4 separate regions of the Homo sapiens genome follow, and all the other regions are linked to region 4. Evidence: fine-mapped expression QTL. A gene starts in region 4. Each other region holds a variant in brackets. All regions are shown on one strand. Distances are from middle to middle. Region 1 overlaps MAP3K11 (mitogen-activated protein kinase kinase kinase 11). Region 2 overlaps SNX32 (sorting nexin 32). Region 3 overlaps LOC124902693. Region 4 holds the start of EFEMP2 (EGF containing fibulin extracellular matrix protein 2).

Evidence for each region. PIP is the estimated chance that this variant, and not a neighbour inherited with it, causes the effect. A credible set is the group of variants that fine-mapping cannot tell apart.
Region 1: its variant is the best candidate, but not a certain one, in a credible set for the expression of EFEMP2 in monocytes (Quach 2016, PIP 0.59).
Region 2: its variant is the best candidate, but not a certain one, in a credible set for the expression of EFEMP2 in whole blood (TOPMed, PIP 0.89).
Region 3: its variant is the best candidate, but not a certain one, in a credible set for the expression of EFEMP2 in whole blood (TOPMed, PIP 0.88).

What each region holds. Positions count from the first base shown.
Region 1 is chr11:65,598,795-65,603,935 of GRCh38, reverse strand. MAP3K11 (mitogen-activated protein kinase kinase kinase 11) reads left to right here. Exons shown (of 10, transcript NM_002419.4): 9 at 4,168-4,542. Among named protein-coding and RNA genes, the nearest start is that of KCNK7, 5.6 kb to the right of the region's middle. The variant T/AGATGT (reference allele first, on the strand shown) is at 2,845.
Region 2 is chr11:65,849,780-65,854,909 of GRCh38, reverse strand. It overlaps SNX32 (sorting nexin 32), which reads right to left. Exons shown (of 13, transcript NM_152760.3): 3 at 4,880-4,990; 4 at 4,639-4,760; 5 at 4,356-4,479; 6 at 4,055-4,159; 7 at 3,750-3,855; 8 at 3,507-3,582; 9 at 3,231-3,270; 10 at 2,359-2,445; 11 at 2,121-2,280; 12 at 1,952-2,037; 13 at 1,209-1,628. The coding sequence ends at 1,575. It overlaps CFL1 (cofilin 1), which reads left to right. Exons shown (of 4, transcript NM_005507.3): 4 at 1-237. Among named protein-coding and RNA genes, the nearest start is that of CFL1, 5.8 kb to the left of the region's middle. RefSeq lists enhancers at 2,028-2,077, 2,128-2,347, 2,595-3,456, 3,978-4,137 and a silencer at 3,578-3,872. The variant A/G (reference allele first, on the strand shown) is at 3,128.
Region 3 is chr11:65,809,044-65,814,184 of GRCh38, reverse strand. The region is part of intron 3 of LOC124902693; the gene reads left to right. Among named protein-coding and RNA genes, the nearest start is that of OVOL1-AS1, 21 kb to the right of the region's middle. The variant CA/A (reference allele first, on the strand shown) is at 2,641.
Region 4 is chr11:65,869,867-65,875,007 of GRCh38, reverse strand. EFEMP2 (EGF containing fibulin extracellular matrix protein 2) reads left to right here and starts at 2,208. Exons shown (of 11, transcript NM_016938.5): 1 at 2,208-2,325; 2 at 2,647-2,764; 3 at 2,990-3,038; 4 at 3,645-3,851; 5 at 4,350-4,472; 6 at 4,771-4,887; 7 at 5,032-5,141. The coding sequence starts at 2,654. RefSeq lists a silencer at 1,146-1,205.

The sequences.
Region 1 (5,141 bases), 270 kb after region 4:
GCCCCCAGGGATACAGTGAATGCTCCCACAATATGAAATTGCAGATGTGTGGCCAGAAGGCCACATGTCTGAGGTTTCATGAAAGCACTGGAAACCATGGTAGTTACTGTTCTTGATAAGTATGTCGGCCTCAACACCAGTGCCCTTCCTGGCTGATGAAGAAATGGATTGCCACTTGCCCTGAAAGGATGTCAGCTGCCCAGCTCAGTGGCTGGCTGAGCATCTGGTTCCCCTAGCCCAATCCCACACTCCACGCATCATCTGGGTCCATGAAAGTACATGACATTGACCTCACAGCCACCCCCCGAAACCCAGCTAAGAATCAAATAATGGGGCTTCACAGAGGTCCCAGACCCTGTGAGATGGTCCCCGGCATAAGCCATACCACTGGAGAGTCACACACACCCTCACCCTGTCCCCAGTGGGCTGTTCTGGTCCCTGGAGAGCTGGCTGCAAGGAGTGGCACATTGGCAGGGTGCACTCAGCTACGCTGATAGCAACTGCCCTGTGAAGCTTGTTGCCTTAGAGCCAATAACTACGTGGCTGTGTCCTCCCTGTGAGACCTCACGGAAGCAGTTTCGCCTCTATCTATCTATCTTTGGGTCAAGAATAGTCACGCAGCTTTCTCCTAAACAACAGAGTTGCTAACTCTTGCTGCCAGGAAGCTTAGAGGCAGATTCAAATCCTAGCTGGATTATGTTGACCAAGTCCCTTACCCTTCAGAACCTCAGTTTCTCAGGCCATTGACTGCAGGAACTTCTGTTCACTCTCATTTTGTCTGCTGGACCCTATCTTCTCTTCCCTTTGTCTCATTTCTGTCTTTTATTTTTTTAAAGATAGAGTCTCATTCTGTTACCCAGGCTGGACTGCAATGGCATGATCATGGCTCACTGCAAACTCTGCCTCCCAGGCTCAAGTGATCCTCCCACCTCAGCTTCCTGAGTAGCAGGGACTACAGGTGCATGCCATGCTTGGCTAATTTTTATATTTTTTGTAGAGATGGGGTTTTGCCATGTTGCCCAGGCTGGGCTGCGCTTAAGTAGTCCACCCACCCCAGCCTCCCAAAGTGCTGGCATTACAGGTGTGAGCCACCACACCCAGCTTGCTCTTGCTATTTTCTTTTTTTTTTTTTAGAAGGAGTCTTGTTCTGTCACCCAGGCTGGAGTGCAGTGGTGCGACCTCAGCTCACTTCAGCCTCCACCTCCCACGTTCAAGCAATTCTCCCTCAGCCTCCCCAGTAGCTGGGATTACAGGCATGTGCCACCATGCCCAGCTAATTTTTTTTTTTTTGAGATGAAGTGTCATTCTGTTGCCCAGGCTGGAGGGCAGTGGTGCAATCTCGGCTCACTACAACCTCCACCTCCCAGGTTCAAGTGATTCTCCTGCCTCAGCCTCCCAAGTAGCAGGGATTACAGGCATGTGCCACAATGCCCGGCTAATGTTTGTATTTGTAGTAGAGATGAGGTTTCACCATGTTGACCAGGCTGGTCCCGAACTCCTGACCTCAAGTGAGCCACCTGCTTCAGCTTCCCAAAGTGCTGGGATTACAAGCGTGAACCACCATGCCCGGCCTAATTTTTGTATTTAGTAGAGACAGGGTTTGACCATGTTGGCCAGGCTAGTCATGCACTCCTGACCTCAAGTGATCTGCCCTACTTGGCCTCCCAAAGTGCTGGGATTATAGGCTTGAGCCACCACTCCCAGCCTCTCTTGCTTTTTTTTTTTTTTTTTTTGAGATGGAGTCTCACTCTGTCACCCAGGCTGGAGCGCAGTGGCGGGATCTCGGCTCACTGTAACCTCCGCCTCCTGGGTTCAAGCGATTCTCCTGCCTCAGCCTCCCAAGTAGCTGAGACTACAGGTGCGTGCCACCATGCCCTGCTAATTTTTGTATTTTTTAGTAGAGACAGGGTTTCACCATGTTGGCCAGGATGGTCTCGATTTCTTGACCTCGTGATCCGCCCACCTTGGCCTCCCAAAGTGCTGGGATTACAGGTGTGAGCCACCGCACCCGGCCAACTCTTTCTTTTTTTTAAACATGATTTCCCCTCTTCTGTTTAAACTCACTGTAAATGATCAGTTCTTCACCTGCGAAGTGGGGGTGATATGATAACCTCGTGGTTGGTGCAAGGATTATAAAAATGGATTCTTCATCAAACAAGAATTTGCTTTTTTTTTTTTTTGAGACGGAGTCTCGCTCTGTTGCCCAGGCTGGAGTGCAGTGGTGTGATTTTGGCTCACTGCAAGCTCCGCCTCCTGGGTTCATGCCATTCTCCTGCCTCAGCCTCTTGAGTATCTGGGACTACAGGCGCCCACCACCACGCCTGGCTAATTTTTTGTGTTTTTAGTAGAGACAGGGTTTCACCGTGTTAGCCAGGATGGTCTCGATCTCCTGACCTCGTGATCATCCCACCTGGGCCTCCCAAAGTGCTGGGATTGCAGATGTGAGCCACCGCGCCTGGCCCAGGGATTTGCATTTTAAGAGCCAGGCATCAACATGTTAAACACTGCCCTGACCTCATATGATGAAGCAGGCAGACTCATAAACAAGTCCAGTAGCACCTCTATGAGGCATAACGTGAGCAATAACTGTGTAGGTTCAGGGAGATTCTGGGAGGGCTTCACAGAGGAAGTGACATCCCAGTTGGTCTTGGATGGTGCATAAGAGGTCACTGAAAGCCAAGGTGGGAAAGGTCAGCCACCCAGAGTGAATAGTGTGTGCGCAGGCATGCAGCTCACCATACCCAAGGAAAAGGCAACCTGGCTGAACTCCGAGAAGAGTTGAGAGCCGAGGAGTCTCAGGACTGGGGCTGCGGACAGGGGCCAAGGCACATGGGTCAGTAGATG[T/AGATGT]TGATTGAATGAATGAGTGAATGAAGCTGGAAGTGATGGGTAGTTTTTAAGCAGAGACCTGTCTTTAACAGGTTTGCATTTTAGAAGGATTCCCTTGTCCCTTCAGTGGCAGTGGCCGGGGTGGGAGTTGGGTGAGGTAAGAGGCAGAGAGTCTGAGTAAGGGTTGGGGCTGACAGAAGGGACTGTGAGCTAAGTCCTGGTTCATAGTAGAAGCTCATTTTTCCCAGCCTTGTATTTCTCCCTCCCGACATCCAACCTGCTGCTGCACTCCAGGCAGGAGGGGAAAGGCAGAGGGACAAGGCCAGGGAGGGCTTCAGAGGACCAGCCAAGGAGGCCAGACTTTCTCCTAGTGACAGTGGAGAGCCACAGCAGTTTCTAGAGCCAAGGAGGGATCTGACAAAATCAGGGCTTGTGAGAGCCCATCCTAGAGTCCCTTGTCCTTAATGAGGGGTTCCCCATCCCTGCCCAAGTGGTCTAGAATGGAGTCAGGCCAACCCTAGACTGGAAGGTAGGACACTAGTGTCTTGAAATCTAGGGCAGAGTCTGGCTGGGAAATGGTGGAGAGCAAAGGTTCTACTGCCCTTGCCTGGGGTGAGGCCGGCTCCACCTTTCACTGGCTGTACAGCTCCGCACAAGCCCTCAACCTCTCTGAGCCTGGAACCCCTGGGGCATGAGAATCAGACAACATAATGCCCCTATGCCATTCAGCTCAGGCCTGGCACAAATACATACTCTGTAAATTAGCTGTGACCTTGGGCAAGGTACTGACCCCTCTGAACCTCATTTTCCTCCTTTCTAGAATAGAGACAGGGATTTATGCCCTCAGGGCTGCCATGTACCTTAGAGTTGACTGTGTGCATCTTATAAGCTACAGCTGGAGCGGGGGTGGGTGGGCAGAAGGGGCAGGGCTGCCAAGCCAGGAAGCTGGTGGGCACAGAGCACAGGGCGCCGGTCCCAGTCAGTGGGACCTGCCATGCCCCTGGGCCTGGAGGTTGCCCCTGGCAGGCCACAGAGGCCCACTGTGACCTGGCCCCAGCCTGCCTCCACTGGGACTGCCCATCCATCTTTCGGGTCTGGGGTCGCTGGCTGCCATTGGGCTTTGCTGCCGCTTCCTCCACCTGCACTGCCCTCCCCTCCCAGTGCCCATCTTGTGAAAGGCCAGAATGTGGGTATGTGATGGGGAGGCCATGGGACCTGTGGGACCAGGGAAGATGCTAGTAGAGGGCAGAACTCAGTCCTTGTTCCAAGACCACGGAGAGGTCTTGGGCCCTCACCCGGAATATGCACCAGCCACACCCTCACCTGTGCCGCCTCTGCCCGCAGGTAACCCCCCGCGGCCTAGCCTGGAGCCCGAGGAGCCCAAGAGGCCTGTCCCCGCAGAGCGCGGTAGCAGCTCTGGGACGCCCAAGCTGATCCAGCGGGCGCTGCTGCGCGGCACCGCCCTGCTCGCCTCGCTGGGCCTTGGCCGCGACCTGCAGCCGCCGGGAGGCCCAGGACGCGAGCGCGGGGAGTCCCCGACAACACCCCCCACGCCAACGCCCGCGCCCTGCCCGACCGAGCCGCCCCCTTCCCCGCTCATCTGCTTCTCGCTCAAGACGCCCGACTCCCCGCCCACTCCTGCACCCCTGTTGCTGGACCTGGGTATCCCTGTGGGCCAGCGGTCAGCCAAGAGCCCCCGACGTGAGGAGGAGCCCCGCGGTGAGTGGCCTGAAGCCGGCCTGCTTCACATATGGGAGACGGGGGTTCCCAGGGAGGGAGGAGTGGCTGGTGGGGACATGCAAGGAGGCAAGGCCGAGACCACAGTCATCAGCTGGACCCTGAACCAGGCATTCGGGGTACTGAAGACGCATGTAGGGAGCAGAGTTCTAAGTTCAGCTATCAGGTGGTCCAGGCAGGTGGGGGCGATGCCTGCTGTGAAATAAAAGAAGTAATCGGGCCAGGCAGTGGTGCACGCCTGTGATCCCAGCACTCTGGGAGGATCACGTGAGCCTTGAAAGGTTGAGGCTGCAGTGAGCGGTGATCATGACACTGGACTCCAGCCTGGGCGACACAGCATACATGTAATCATAATCGTAGCAAACTCCTGGCTCCTTACTTGTGCCAAGTACTGTTTGCAAGGCTTTCCCGAGATGGTCTCATTTAGTCATAACAACCAGAGAACTAAGCGCTCCTGGATGCCCATTTTTAGATGAGGAAATTTAAGGCACAGAGATTAAGGGACCCACAGCTCCCACAGCTAGTAAGTGGCAGGGCCGGGATCCACATCCAGGCCAGCCTGCTGCAGAGGCCTCACTCCT
Region 2 (5,130 bases), 20 kb after region 4:
CCGGCTGGTTCCTCTCCCTTTTCCCCTGGTCACGGCTACTCATGGAAGCAGGACCAGTAAGGGACCTTCGATTAAAAAAAAAAAAGACAATAATAAAAAGGCTCATTAATGGGATGTGTTTTTCAAGGTTGGGACACAGGAGACTTCAGGATTGGGGGTGCACTGGGATAATGGTGCTATCTCTCTCCTCTGTACTCCACACCCAACCAGCCCCTGCACACCCTTATCTGGCTCCAATGACTGGCTGAGACGCCTTTCTGATGGTCACCATTATTCTGTTGGTGCTGTGATTGACACTGGACTGGCTGTTTAAGGAGTGGGTGCTGGCTACAGGGGTCTTCCAGCGGAAGTGATTTATGCCTGAACTGGGTGCTCTGTAGCCTTGCCTGGATGGACAGTGAGGTCCATCTGATATTCTGTTCTGTCCCTTTCTAGGTGTGGGCTGATAGGCAAGTCAGAGGTAGCTCAAAGGTTCTGTTTGGTCTGCTGTCTTCCCTGGATGGCTGACTCAAGTTTATGAGGGTCAGGTTCAGTGGCTGCTGTGAGTCAGGCCAAGTTGAGCCTTTGACCTCCTCTAGATGTGGCTGGAGTGCATTCAGGGTGGGGCCAGCCAGGTGGAGCCCGGGACTTCAGACCCCGGTGTCTTGAGCACTGCCTCCCTGTGTTTAACCAAAAGGGTGTTGCCGGTACCCTGAGCCTTTTGCCAGCATTGTCAAGGGCTGTTTCCAGCCTGTACTTTGGGCTTTTTCCTGCCCAGCAGGCAAAGACATACAAGAAATCTGGCCCTAGGGTGAGGTGAACTGGGAGTGGTAATGTGGCATCTATATTTCCCTTATCAACTGAACTGAGGAAGAGTCCTCCTGGTGTTACAGTTGGCTCCATAACTCCTGGGAACTTGTGAGCGGTTCTGGGAGGAAGGGCTAGATCCCTTTTCTGGTTAGGAAATAGGTGTGGAGAACTTGGGATTCATTTTTGTGCTAGGGTTTATGGGGGTAGGGGCAAACCTGGAAGACTTCTGGGGTTCCTAGGTCCCAGCTTCTGGGTGTCGCGCCTTCCCACAGGGAGCCTGCTGTCACTGGAGAGAGGGCTGAGGATGCTGCAGGGGTGCCCTCCTTGGTGTCTCCAGGATCTGATCATACTGCCTTGGCAGAAAGTGTGCCTGGTGGACCTTTGAGCTGTGGGAAGGGAAGTAAGGACAACAGGCCTCCTTGCTACAAAACCAGGGTTTTTATTTGCGAAGGAGAACAGGCCGGGATCAAGTGAGCTATGATTCCTTCAGGGCTATGGGTGAGGGTAGAGGCTGTTCCTCAGCTTCCTGGGGAGAGGTGTCAGGGTCCCTGGGGCTCTGCTGACTGTGGCCAGTTATGATGCCCATGCTGCCCTGTGTCTTGCAGGGCCTGGCACCTGTGGTGGTGGTGATAGGGGGTTTGGGCTTTCCCTGAGAGGATGTGGGGCAGAGTGAGGGTGTGGCTAGTGGCACTGCTAGGGAAGGAGACATCTTGCCGGAGAGAGGGGTCTGGGATACCCTGGTCACTGGAGATCCCAGATTAGGGTCTGGCTGAGCTCTGGCTACTCTAAGGCTCCCCCTTTAGGGCAACAAGGGTGTTCCGGAGAATCAGGGTGCTGGCCTGCAGAGGAGAAACAGGTCCTTGAAGTCCCCTGCTCCCTGAGTCAGGCTGCCATTCTTTCTGCACCTTAGATGCTCCCTCGCTCCCCACACCCCTGCTCTCTGCAATAACAGCTGCTGTTAATTGGGCCTTCCTACCCAGAAGGCACGGGTCCTGAGCCAGGGAAGCATGGCCCCAAGCCTTAGCTGGGGCTCCTCTCATGCACACACACGCGCATACATGCGTGCACACCCTCACATGCACGCACACCCTGGTGCCTGGGGGAGGGAGGGAGGTGGGAGGTGGGAGGCTTCACAAGGGCCCAGTGAGGTGGGAGGGCTCACCTTGGCGTGTTTGAGCTCCAGCTCTGCCAGCTCAATGAGATTCTTTCGAAAAGAGGAGACCCGGCGGGACTTGAAGTCCATGAGCTCTGGAGAGGAGGGGAAGAGGCATGGGGATCCGGGCAGGGCAGGGCATGTGGCCCCAGGCTGGGGCTGGGGGCTGCGGGCTCACCTTGCTTGGCGGAGTCGGAGAGGCGCTCGAAGCGTTGGCAGCACAGCTGCTGGTGGCTCTCGGCGGGCCGCACCTCCCGGTTCCTGGTGCGCGCCTTGTCCAGCGCCTTGTTGGCATTCTCGTAGTCGGCCAGTGCCCGCAGCCGCCGGTACAGCAGGTCCTAGGACCATGGGCACAGGGTCACTGCTGCCCTGTCCTGGCATCCGGGCCTGAGCGCTGCGCTGGGGCTGCCTCTCACCTTGGCTGCCTGTGAGTCACGCATGTAGTACCTCAGCATGTCTGACAGCTTCAGGTCCTCATCGGAAGCCACCCGGCCCTCCAGCTTCTGCATCAGAAAGGTGGGCACTGGGAAGGGAGCTTGTCAGAGGGGCAGCTAAGGGGTGGGAGGCACCTCTTCATCTAAATATCCAGCAAAGAAGCCTTAGGTAACTGTTCCAGGTCAGGTCTGGTGTTGAGGGGTGCAGGCCAGGGAAGGCTTCACAGAGGAAGTGGGATCTAGTCTGGATCTCGGGGACTGAGTAAGAGCTGGACAGAGGGCGCTGAGGGCTTGGCAGCTGTGCAAGCCCGGCTATGTGTTCAGGGAAACTTTAGTTCAGGGAGGGCACTTGGGCAAAGCAGGGGAGGGAGGCAGTGGCTGGAGCACAAGAGGCTGAAAGTGGAAGCTCAGGACTTTAGGAGCTTCCAGAAGGGGCAGGGTCTCTGAAGGGCCTTGAGCAGGGAAGAGATGCGGTCCAATAGACATTTTAGGAAGATGGCAACACTCCAGTGACTTTCTTAGGGAAGAGTGGGGAACATGTGTGCCCGGGCAGTGTGCTGGCAGCTGGGTGCAGCCTGCCAGAGGTTTGGGCACACCCTTGTGCCTCCCAACCCTCCGCTGCTGCACACGTGCATACATGTGCATGCCCCTGCACCCCCCAACACACACACGAAGCTGGATCCTTGTCTTCACCCCACCTTTTGTTAAACTAGTCTGGAGTGTAAGCCCAACTTGCCACTGGGCCCAAGTT[A/G]TCACTGAACCCAAGATGATCCTGGAGCTCTTCCCTCTGCCAGGACTCATCTTCCCTGCAAAGCTCACCAGGAAAGCCTTTGAGCACAGAAGGCAGTACTCACCCTCAGCCGTTCAAAGAGCTCTGCCAATTTGAGGAAGCTCCTAGGAAGCAGTAGGGAGGGAGTTAGGGTAGGGGGCTGAGGAACAGCTCAAAGCCTCTCTGTCTCAGCCTCTCCTTGGGAATCTCCCTCTCCCCTTTCCTTCCCAACACCATCCCCCAACAGGAGAGCCTACACCTCCCACCTAGAGCTGACAGTAGACATCTACAGAGTGACCCCTCATGGGAAGACATGGTATTACAGGCACAGGGAGAGGGTAGGGGTGGGGGGAGTCCTCACGTCCTTAGCTGGTTGACTTCCTGTGTTCCCAGACTGCTCAGCGCAGCTGAGATAGGGATATAATCGTCTGCCAGGCCTGTTGGGGAACAGCCCCCATCAGAGCCCCTACATCTGCATGTCAAGCCTTGGTGCTTGTGGCCACAGACAAACAACAAGGCACGCCCTGCTCTCTTCTCTCCCCCAAGGAGTTGAACCGCTGGGGAGAGGGGCAGGGGGATCCAGGACCCCTTGGGCCCTGCGTACACTTGTGGGCGCGCATGACGCGGTCGGCCCGCAGGCAGGCATCTCGGATACGGGTGTGATACTCCAACAGGAAGGTCCTCTCATGCTCAAAGAAGTCATCCACCTCCTAAGGGAGCCAGGCAGGACCCCATTTACACTGGGTCACCACGGGGCTTGACAACACAGGCACCCAGGGTTGGCAAAATCTCCTTCCAAACCAGGCCAGGCCCCACCAGTGGCTTCCTTCCCACACCCAGCCTGGGCCTCAATCTGTGCTGTGGACTTGAGGTGCTGGGTTGAATCCGGAGAGGAGCACCAGGGGTTACCTTGAGCCCTGACATGCCCGTGATGAGGGCTTCATCCGCGGACTTCACAATATTCCTCAGAAACCCTCCGAGGAGCTCCTTCCTGTTCTTCCCCCGGACACTCAGCTGAGGCACACAGGGAGGGTATGATGCTGGGGTGGGCGTTCTCACCTCCCACCCCAAGTTGCAAGCCACTCACGGAGCTGTGACACAGGATTGGGCCCACTTGGGCCCCTTCTCCAGCCCTGCCACCCCTGGGTGCCTCCCCACCCAAGGTAGACTCCTGGCCCAAGGGTGACCCCAGGGATTCGGCCCAGCTCACATCCTGTCCATATTCCAAAAACACAAAGAAGTTGTGGTCTCGACGCAGGGTGGGGTGGGCCGCCAGGCGCTGCAGAAAGACTTCGTGCATCGCAACTGTCTTCTTAAAGATGGCCAGGTACTCCCTGCGAGAGTGGCAGCAGCTCACCGGCCCTCCTCAGCCCCCATCATCCTGCCTGCCCCCTTTCTGGGGTCAGAGGTCAGGGTTGCTAAACATTCATGGGGAGATAGCTGGGGAAGACATCTGGACTCTGGGGATGGCAGGGAAAGGAGGGGGCACTCACGCTTCCAGCTCCTGCTTCATCTTGGCAAACTCTTCCCGAGTGACAGAGCTGTCCCCCTCGCCCAATTTCTGTAGCTTTTCCCTCGAAGCCTCAAAGTCTGGCCTCGGAGGGGCTGGGGGGATCTGCTCAAAGGAGGGACGGAGCTGGGAGGCCTCTCACTGCCGAGACGGCCATCACAGCCTTTGGTCCTCACCCAAGTGCTCTGCCTGTCCCTCCCAGCCCCTGCCCAGCCCCTCCTCACGATGAGGCCGGCGTACTCCTCATTCTCCACGTAGGCATCATGCAGCCAGATGAACTCCTCGTGCTGCCGCACGACTGAGAACTCGGTCTGGGCGAAGTGAGGGAGGCAGCTCTGGAAGCGGGAAGGCCAACTGAGGTCCTCTCTCTGCCCCAAGCCCTGCCTCAGCAAGTCTGGGCATGCACTTTTGGGCCCCCCTCATCCCACATCCCAGGGAGGACAAAGTTAGAGCTCAGGTGTGCATGATTTCATTT
Region 3 (5,141 bases), 61 kb after region 4:
TCAATTAAATTAACGTTTAGAAACATTGTAGATAGAAAAAGCTAAAGAGCATTTTAGCAAACAGTGATTACCTAGAGATGCAAGTGCTTTGAATTTGAGCATTAGAGAACTTGTGAATTTGTAGGAGTTAAGCAGGACAAGTACCCATCTAATGAATGTTCATAAGGGAAGCGCGCGTGTAGGAGGCATTTCAGGTAGCCCAGCGCAGACCAAGGAGGGAAGGAAACAGATAAGATGTCAGAAAACATCTTCAAATACCCAGAGTTGTTATCCCCTCCACGAAACATTGGAGGGCGAATTGTTTGGGTCAGTAAAATAGAATCATAAAGTGTGAAGAAGAAACCTGTGGAACATTCTGGAAGAATTGGTCAGAGATGGGCCGGGCGTGGTGGCTCACACCTGTAATCCCAGCACTTTGGGAGGCCGAGGTGGGTGGATCACCTGAGGTCAGGAATTCAAGACCAGACTAGCCAACATGATGAAACCCCGTCTCTACTAAAAATACACAAAATTAGCCGGGCGTTGTGGTGGGCGCCTGTAATCCTAGCTACTCAGGAGGCGGAGGCAGGAGAATTGCTTGAACCCGGGAGACAGATTGCAGTGAGCTGAGATTGCGCCACTGCAGTCCAGCCTGGGCAACAAGAGCGAAACTCCATCTCAAAAAAAGAAAAAAAAAAAAAAAGAATTGGTAAGAGATGAATACCCCATCACAGCCTCTTTGATTTCAGAGGTGAAATAGTTGAACCCCAGACCTCACTGTCAGATGTAAAGAGTCACTCCAAATTTATAAGCTCATTAAACTAGTATTTCTGACCGTTTACACATTTGGCTGTAGAGAAAATACACAGAATGCTTCCAGCCACACCTATGCCTACTCAAGCCACTTAGCTGACAAGCCACTTAGCTTTTTCTTCTAATTACTCGGGTGCGCGTCTCTGTTATTTACAAAGTTTGGTGAAGTCAGGGCAGGGGGAATTTATGGTTCGATACCCTTTCTAGCACAGAGGGGTAAAATTCAGCCTGTCTTTTGAAATCAGTCTGAACTGTCAAACTCCCAGTTGAGGACTCCTCTCCCCAAATCAGGAATCTTTTTTGTTTTCTCTGGCTATGGGCCACAGTCAGGGCTTTGGAGTTCATTTGTATGCCCTCCCCCATCCCCATTAGTGTTATTGTGTATATTTGAGGTACTTATTCTTCACTGACCATAGGTGAATAGGAGCTGGTTCACCTAAAAGCTCCCACTCCCCATTCACTTTTTTTTTTTTTTTTTTTTTTTTGAGATGGAGTCTTGCTCTGTTGCCCAGGCTGGAGTGCAGTGGTGAGATCTTGGCTCAATGCAACCTCTGCTTCCCAGGTTCAAGCGATTCTCCTGTCTCAGCCTCCTGGGTAGCTGGAATTACATGTGCCCACCACCACACCCGACTAAGTTTTCGTATTTTTAGCAGAGACGGGATTTCATCATATTGGTCAGGCTGGTGTCGAACTCCTGACGTCAGCTGATCCACCTGCCTTGGCCTCCCAAAGTGCTGGGATCGCAGGTGTGAGCCACCGCACCCAGCCCCCATTCACTTTTGTTTTAGGAAATGAGAAAGCTTCTGCCTTTTTTCTTTCCTTCCTTCCTTGGATGTTAGTTAAGATCAGTGAGGTAATGGTGATAAAGTACTTTGAATTACCTCAAGGAGAGTGCAGCCCAACTTGTTATTATTTACCTAGGTCAGTTCACAAACCCCCACGATCTAGGGTTCCTGTCTCCTGCCCTGGGGATGGTGCCTGGGAGAAAGGAGATGTCACAGACCCAGTCCCACAGGGCGCTGTTGGCTGGAGTTGGTCATTCCTTACTTTGACATCAACAGGCTTATCTCTAGAAATAGGCTAAATGGTAGCTCAGGCGCCGGTGTTGCCTCATCCCGCAAACTCCCAGGGAGGCTGCCTACTTCCAGCCCCTGTTCTGGGAACTAATGATAGGTGGGATGAAAAGACTGTTTCCTCTGATGCGCTTTTATGAGTTGTTTTCGAAGATGAGGTGGCAAGGACATGGTTAACCCGCTCCCTTGTGCAGGGAGACATCAGAATGACAGGGCACGGGGAATCTCCCCAACCCGTTCCCAGGAGAGCTCTTGCCGAGGACGGCCCAGCTGTTAGCCAGAAATCAAGGCAGCCTCAAGCCCTGTAACCCAGATATCAGTGGGCTTTTTCGGCTGACGGTGCTGTGGCCTGCGGCAGGCGGCAGTGTGGGTAGAGGACAGCTGTGGCTGAGGCCGGCAGCTCTTTCCACACGACTTCTTGGGTAATGGCTCTTCTTAAGCCTGTGATATTTAGGGATTGTCAAACTTCCCTTTCATCCTGAGCCACCTTCCCTCATGGGTAGCAGAGGAGTTGGATTTCTTTCTTTTCTTTTCTTTTTTCTTTTTCTTTTTCGACAGAGTCTTGCTCTGTCGCCCAGGCTGGAGGGCAGTGGTATGATCTCTGCTCACTGCAACCTCCACCTCCCGGGTTCAAGTGATTCTTCTGCCTCAGCCGCCCGAGTAGCTGGGATTACAGGCACGCACCACCACGCCCAGCTAATTTTTGTATTTTTAGTAGAGATGGGGTTTCACCATGTTGGTCAGGCTGGTCTCGAACTCTTGACCTCAGGTGATC[CA/A]CCTGCCTTGGCCTCCCAAAGTGCTGGGATTACAGGCGTGAGCCACCAAGCCCGGTCAAGGAGTTGGATTTCTTATGACAAGAGTATTATGGCTGTGTGTCCCAGAGGAGGCACTGTGTCCTCATGAGGGTCCTTCACTGAAAGGAGAGCCTCGAGGACAAAGGAATCTTCTAGAGACGACGTTGGGAGGGAGGAGTGGAGTTTGCAGGTGACTCTAGAGGACCCCAAAGTCCAGTGGGAGCTCATTACCTCCTCGATAGGAGGAGCCTGTTGTTGTATGAGTGAGGAAAGGTGGCAGAACCGAGGCTGAGAGAGGCTGCGAAGATGCAGCAGCAGTGCTGAGGCCTGAGAGGAGGACACGTTCTATTACGCCAATTAATTCTACCCACCGAAAGGGCACATCACATTTTTGGGGTTGCCAAAAGCCGTTCTTAGCAGTAAAAAGTCTGTGAACTGCTGCACTGGGGATTGGCAAAGGCTTGGTAGCCAGCGCATTGAAGAGGGAGGGACAGCAAGCCTCACACCGGGAGTGGATCCTTCCTGTGTTTCTGCCACCACAGTTTGCCAGTTTGATGCCAAGGGACTCTTACTGTTTATGTGTGCATGTTTGTGCTGTTAGATTATCTTCTGAGCAATTTCAAGTTTTAAGAATATGTTGGTGAAGTCAACAATGAACAATTCCAGGAGACTTGGTTCCACCCGGGCCCTGCTCAGGAAAGATGAGGAGCCCCTCCCAACCCCACCCCTGCCTGTCCACATGGCCCTTCCTCCCCATCATCCACCATGGGGCCCTCCTGTGCCACAACATGGCTCTCATCCTTCTGTCTGGACACTTGCCCTGCCTCCTGGAGAGCCAGGCTCCTGCCCTGGCGGGCATGTGAGTGTGCATGTGTGTGAGTGTGCATGTGTGAGTGTGCGTGTTTGCGAGTGTGCACGTGAGTGCACGTCTGAACGTGTGTGGGAGTGTATACGTGAGTGCACGTCTCAACGTGTGTGCGAGTGTGCATGTGTGTGCGAGTGTGTACGCGTGAGTGCACGTGTGCATGTGTGTGCAATTGTGCGTGTGTCTACGTGTGTGCATGTGAGTGCATGTGTGTGTGATTGCGTGTGTGTATAATTGTGCACGTATGTGAGTGTGCATGTGTGTACAATTGTGTGCGTGTGTGTGAGTGTGCATGTGTGTGCATGTGGCACGGAGGGGGAAGAAGAGAGTTCTCCTCTGTGGTGATCGCCACCATTCAGTTGAAGGGTTTAAGCTGAGCCAAGATGAAGCAAGAGTGACACCAAGTGCCAAGAACAAGTGCTTGCTGTGGTATCAGGTGTGCTCTCTCCTCAAATCAGAGGAGCAGAGAGAAGCTCAGTTCCAGTCTGCAGTGTTCACCCCTGTGAGAGGGTGCCGACCCATCCAGAGGTGGCCAGCCCCCTCCAGAGGTGGCTCAGTGCTGGCATGCCACTCTGCCCATTTGGACAAGGGGATGGCCTCTCTGGGAATTGGATGCGGAACCGAAGCTTTGAATAGATTTAAAAAATAAAATCCAAGGTGGGATGTTTTGTTGGCTAGAACATGATGCACAGACCCAGATTGCCGTTCTGGCCCTATTGCTGTCCTTCAGCCCCATTCGGAGAATGACCAGACCCCGAGGCCACAGTAGGACAAAGAAGAAGACTGACCCAGTTCTCTGTTTCCTGCTGCCATGCCCGGGCCTCTGCTGCCAGAAGTCTTCCCCATGAAGCCATAGGTGGGGGACTAAAAGGCATATTCCTGTGGGGTGACCCCGAGAGAGACTGGGCATGGTTTCCACCGAGGCACTGTTGGGGGCAGAGAATTCTTTGGTTGCCGGAGAGGACCACCTGGTGCAGACCAGACCTGCAGCTGCGGCTTCAGGGTAGGAGCATGGCCGCCTTGGTGTCGCCATCTGGCCAGTCCTTGTTCCTACAGTTCCACTCCCAGCCGTGTCCTCAGCTTGTACCCACTTGTTTTTTTCCTTCATGGAAGCTAAGGAGGGGACTGGGTTTGTTTGTCCAGATGCCACCAGTTGGATGACCGTTGCGGGTACAGGAGTGTCTTCACCACGCAGTGCCAGGCCAGGTCCCACCTCACATCTCTATTCCTCATCTGGGAATGCTGGCATCAGCAGGTTGATTCAAAACTAGGAGGTGTTGGGAAACCCCTTGGGCTGGAGATTTCGAACTGAGATTCAGATGAGAAAAAACATAGTGGGTGGGGTTCTGAGGCAGGAAGGAGACAGCAAAAGCTCCTGTCCTGACGCTCCGCTCGATAGCGGGGATCAACAGAGCGGCCTGGCATGGTTGGGGGCAGCTGCGCTGGCTGAACCCAGGTGCAAGGCTGGCCCTGGACGGCCTCTCCCACCTCTGGACACAGAGCCGCCCCGTGCCTCTCCATTCACCAGGCAAAACCACACCTGGAGTGGCGCGTTCAGTCTGGGGCATGTTGGCACCAGCAGGTGTGGATAAATCCAAGGGCTCCTTCGGAGGGAGG
Region 4 (5,141 bases):
AGCTGGCAGTGAGCCGAGATGGCGCCACTGCACTCCAGCCTGGGCGACAGAGCAAGACTCCGTCTCAATTAAAAAAAAAAAAAAAAAAAAGAATTCACCTATATTGTGGCATGCATCAGTACTTCATTAGTTTTTATGGCTGAATAATGTTCGACTGTGTGGATGTACTGCATCTTGTTATTCATCAGTTGACGGCTTTTGTGTTGTTTCTGCATTTGGCTCTTATATATAGTGCAGCTATAAACGCTGCGTACAGATTTGTGTGTGTGTACATATCTTTTCAATTATCCTAGGTATGTATACCTAGGAGTGAAATTGTCAGGTCATGTGATAACATTTTGAGGAACTGCCAGACCATTGTCCACCAACAGTGCATGAGGGCTCCAGTTTCTCCGTATCTTTGCCAACACTTGTTACTGTCTTTCTCGTTTTAAAGAGCTATTATTATTATTACTATTTTTGAGATGGAGTCTCGCTCTGTCGCCCAGGCTGGAGTGCAATGGCACAATCTCGGCTCATTGCAACAACTGCCTCCCGGGTTTAAGAGATTATTCTGCCTCAGACTCCCGAGTAGCTGGGATTAGAGGCACGTGCCACTACACCAGCTAATTTCTTTGTGTTTTTGTAAAGACAGGGTTTCACCATGTTGGCCAGGCTGGTCTTGAACTCCTGACCTTGTGATCTGCCCACCTTGGCCTCCCAAAGTGTTGGGGTTACAGGCGTGAGCCACCGCGTCGGGCCTATTATTATTATTATTATTTTAAGATGGAGTCTCCCTCTGTCACCCATGGAGTGCAGCAGTGTGATCTGGGCTCTCTGCAACCTCCACCTCCCGAGTTCAGGTGATTCTCCTGCCTCAGGCTCCTGAGTAGCTGCGACTACAGGCACGCGCCACCACGCCTGGCTAATTTTTATATTTTTAGTAGAGACGGGGTTTCACCATGTTGTCCAGACTGGTCTCGAACTCCTGACCTCAGGTGATCCACCTGCCTCGGCCTCTCAAAGTGCTGGGATTACAGGCTTGAGCCACCGCGTCCGGCCCCTAAAGAGCTATTATTTAACCTTCTGCCCCAGCAGCTGGGAGGGATGGTGGTGGCAGAGTGGCGAGGAGCGGGCACTGCGCAGTTCACCTGAGCCCCAGGCGCTCGCCGCGGGACCCACCAGCACGTCCCCTCCTCGGCAGACTCCCTCCCCGGGGTCACGTGGAGGGCGACTGCGGGGATAAGCAGGGATGGCAAGGGGAAAGGAAGGGCGGGCCCCAGGCGGGGGATCCCCGGACACGCAGTGCTTTCCCGCCTGGCCCCGCCCAAAGACGTGGGCAAACAGAGGCCACGCCCTTCCTGGGAGCCAGCCCCGCCCATACTCCGCCCCAAGGACACGCCCCCACTTCGGGCGGAGGCGGAAACCGGGCGGGGGACGCTGGTGCGAGGAGGTCGAGGAGGCGCCTTGGCACCCGACTCTGGCATCCCGCACGTCCGACATCAGCCCTGCCCTCCTTCTCAGGGGCTTCCATTCATTTTGTGCCAAAAGGGAACTGCCGCCCTCGCCCCCAAACTTGTAGCTTTGTGGATGGAGGGTGTGGGGGAGGCCGTGTGTAGTGAAAGGACCACCCGGCTGAAGACGGTCCTGGGGGTGGAGGGCAGGAGGGAGCGAGAAGGACAGTTCTGCTCCTGGGAGCCTCTCGTTCCTGGGCGAGGGTCTGGGGACCCTGGATGAAGTTTTAGGATCTTTTACAATGACGGTCTGGGGCAGAGAATAAAATTTTGCAGGGAGCAGATTGAGGGTCTGGAGGACTGGGTTAGGTGGGCTCTAGGTACCCAGGACGATCTCGGGAGGCGCACAATGAGAATCTGGGGGCTCCAGGATTACGGTGTGGGTGCACAGGATGAAATTCTGGGGGCGCAGATTAGGTAGGACCTAGGTGAGCAGGATGACATTTTTGGTGAGCGTCTGGGGGCCCCCGGGTGAGTCTGGGGGCCTGGCATCAAGGTCGGGGCCCCAGGATCGAGCACTGGGGGACCCTGGTCCGGCGCCGGGAGGCGGCTCCTGGCGGCGCCGCGGGGGACCGGGTAGGGGCCTGTGGCTGGCCGGGGGCGGAGAAGCGGGGGGTCGGGGTCCCTCCCCCTGGCGCTGGCTCAGGAATCCGCCGAAGGGCGGGCGGAGGCGCCGGGGTGGGCCGCGCCGCGGCAGGCGGGCGGGCGGGGGGCGCTTCCTGGGGCCGCGCGTCCAGGGAGCTGTGCCGTCCGCCCGTCCGTCTGCCCGCAGGCATTGCCCGAGCCAGCCGAGCCGCCAGAGCCGCGGGCCGCGGGGGTGTCGCGGGCCCAAGTGAGTGGCTGTGACCGTCCGTGGGGGAGGGCGTGGGCCGGAGTCTCGGCCGAGTCCGCGGCAGCGTAGCGCCCACAGAGGCCCGCGCTCCTCGGCCTTCGCCGCAGGGGCGCGGGGCGGGGGCGGGGTGGCCGGGGCGGGTGGGCCTGGGACCCGGGCCTGGGACCTGGGCCTGTGAGGAGTCGGCCCCCAGCCCTGGGAGGCCCCGAGGCCCAAGCACGGTCCTGAGCGGGCAGTGGCGGGGGCTGGGCTCGGGCTCCCGGTACAGGGAGTTGAGGTGCCGCGGGCAGAGGCCCCTGACCCGTGTCCACCATCTCGCAGCCCCAGGATGCTCCCCTGCGCCTCCTGCCTACCCGGGTCTCTACTGCTCTGGGCGCTGCTACTGTTGCTCTTGGGATCAGCTTCTCCTCAGGATTCTGAAGAGCCCGACAGCTACACGGTGGGGACAGTGAGGGCCGCTGGCCTGGGACAGGAAGGGTAGGGAGGAAGAGACCGGGACCCAGGGTGACTGCTGCCGGGGAAGTCTTCCTCCCCTGGCTGGTGGAGAGCTGGGGGCCATTGTTTGGAGCAGGCCGGAGGGTGGCCAGGCTCAGGCCCTAGTCTTGGCCTGGCCAGTTGGAGGAGATCTTAGGGTGACCACTGGCCACTTCTGGTTCCCTTCCAGGAATGCACAGATGGCTATGAGTGGGACCCAGACAGCCAGCACTGCCGGGGTGTGTGTGCCTGGGGGACCAAACACCCCCAGGAACCCGGAAAGGGATTGATAGCTGCTTTCCAAGGGACAGCCCCACCTCCAAGAACTGCCGTGGGAGCCCAGCAGCCCGTTCTATGCCCAGCTCTGCTACACAGAGGCCAGCTCTGGCTCTCTGGAGGCCAGTTGAGCTAGGGGTGGCCTCATCCTCTCCCAGAAACCCAGGAAACCTTGTCCCTACCCCTCAGAGGAGCTGGATCCTGTACGCCTTCTCTGAACCACTCTCCTGTCCCAGCTCTTTGTCTCATCACAACCTGGGAGGGTAGCGTCCCCAGGGGTGGGTAAGGAGGCCCCCCATCTTGGGCTGAGCTAGGGCTAGGGCCGTGGGGAGGGATAGAGACCCACTTGCAGGCCGAGAATGAGGGCAACAGTGGGAACAGCTGCCCCATCTCCAGCCTTGGCCAACCCTGGGGAGGGGTCCTGAGCAGGCAGACTTAGCTTGTTGAGCAGAGTGGGAAGGCTTTGCTGGGGCCACACATCTCAGAGAAGGCCGAGCTGGGTTCCTGCCTCCGCTCCCTCCAGGGCCAGCCCAGGAGACTGGCTGTGCCCAGCAGGCCCCTCTCTGCAGATGTCAACGAGTGTCTGACCATCCCTGAGGCCTGCAAGGGGGAAATGAAGTGCATCAACCACTACGGGGGCTACTTGTGCCTGCCCCGCTCCGCTGCCGTCATCAACGACCTACACGGCGAGGGACCCCCGCCACCAGTGCCTCCCGCTCAACACCCCAACCCCTGCCCACCAGGCTATGAGCCCGACGATCAGGACAGCTGTGTGGGTGAGTGGGGACTGCTCTGGTGCCTGGCTTCCAGTCCTCTCACCAGGCGTCTTAAACTCAGACCTCATGTTCCTCCCCAGCTCAAAAGGGCCACTGGTGATGTCCACACCCTCATCCAGACACTCATGTTGTTTAGGACCTGCCGCAGGTGGCCCCAGCTTGTGTGCCACTGCTCCAGCCAGCTCCGGGCCCCTCCCCTCGGTTGCTGCAGAGACACTGCAGGAAGTCTGCCTTCCAGTGTCTGTCCCCTGGGAGCCACAGGCCTTGGAGGAAGGACAGTCCAGGAATCAGTGTTGCTGGGGATGTTTGGACAGGACCTTATTTCCTGTGCAACCCCCAACATGTGGTTTTAGAGGTTAGGGGTGCCTTTCCTGATGGCTCCAGGCTGGTGAACTCTTACGCGTGCTGTTGAGAGAACCGAATACAAGTGTTGGAACTATCTGTCATGTTGGGTGGTGTGCGGGATCCCAGGCAGGGGCTGAGTGGTGTCTCTCGCAGATGTGGACGAGTGTGCCCAGGCCCTGCACGACTGTCGCCCCAGCCAGGACTGCCATAACTTGCCTGGCTCCTATCAGTGCACCTGCCCTGATGGTTACCGCAAGATCGGGCCCGAGTGTGTGGGTGAGTCCAGGAAGCAGCTTCTGTAGTCCCGGCTTTGTGTCCCTGGTCTGGCCCTTGCCCTAGCACCTGACCCCCATTCAAGCCAGGCTTCACCCCCGGCCCCTGCCACCTCACCCTCCGTCATCAGACACAGAGGACTGTAGCGGGGAGTGTTTGGGAGGTGTCCTGGCTGACCCTGCCTAATTCAGCTCCTCGGACACAGGATTATGGGTGGTGAAGCCTTGAGTCCCAGCCGGCTCGAGCCCACCTGCCCTCTGCCCTCTGCCCTCCGCCCTCCTTCTCCTGCCTCTATCCCTAGACATAGACGAGTGCCGCTACCGCTACTGCCAGCACCGCTGCGTGAACCTGCCTGGCTCCTTCCGCTGCCAGTGCGAGCCGGGCTTCCAGCTGGGGCCTAACAACCGCTCCTGTGTTGGTGAGGCTGGGCTGGGCCAGGCTCCTGGGTCCTGGGCAGGGAGGTGTGAGGTGGGGGCGCTCCCTTCTTGACCAGCCCAGGTAGAGTGGAGGCTCTGGGCTCCTCCTCCGCTTTCATCCCTCCTGTTTTTCCTGGCACCCCCAGATGTGAACGAGTGTGACATGGGGGCCCCATGCGAGCAGCGCTGCTTCAACTCCTATGGGACCTTCCTGTGTCGCTGCCACCAGGGCTATGAGCTGCATCGGGATGGCTTC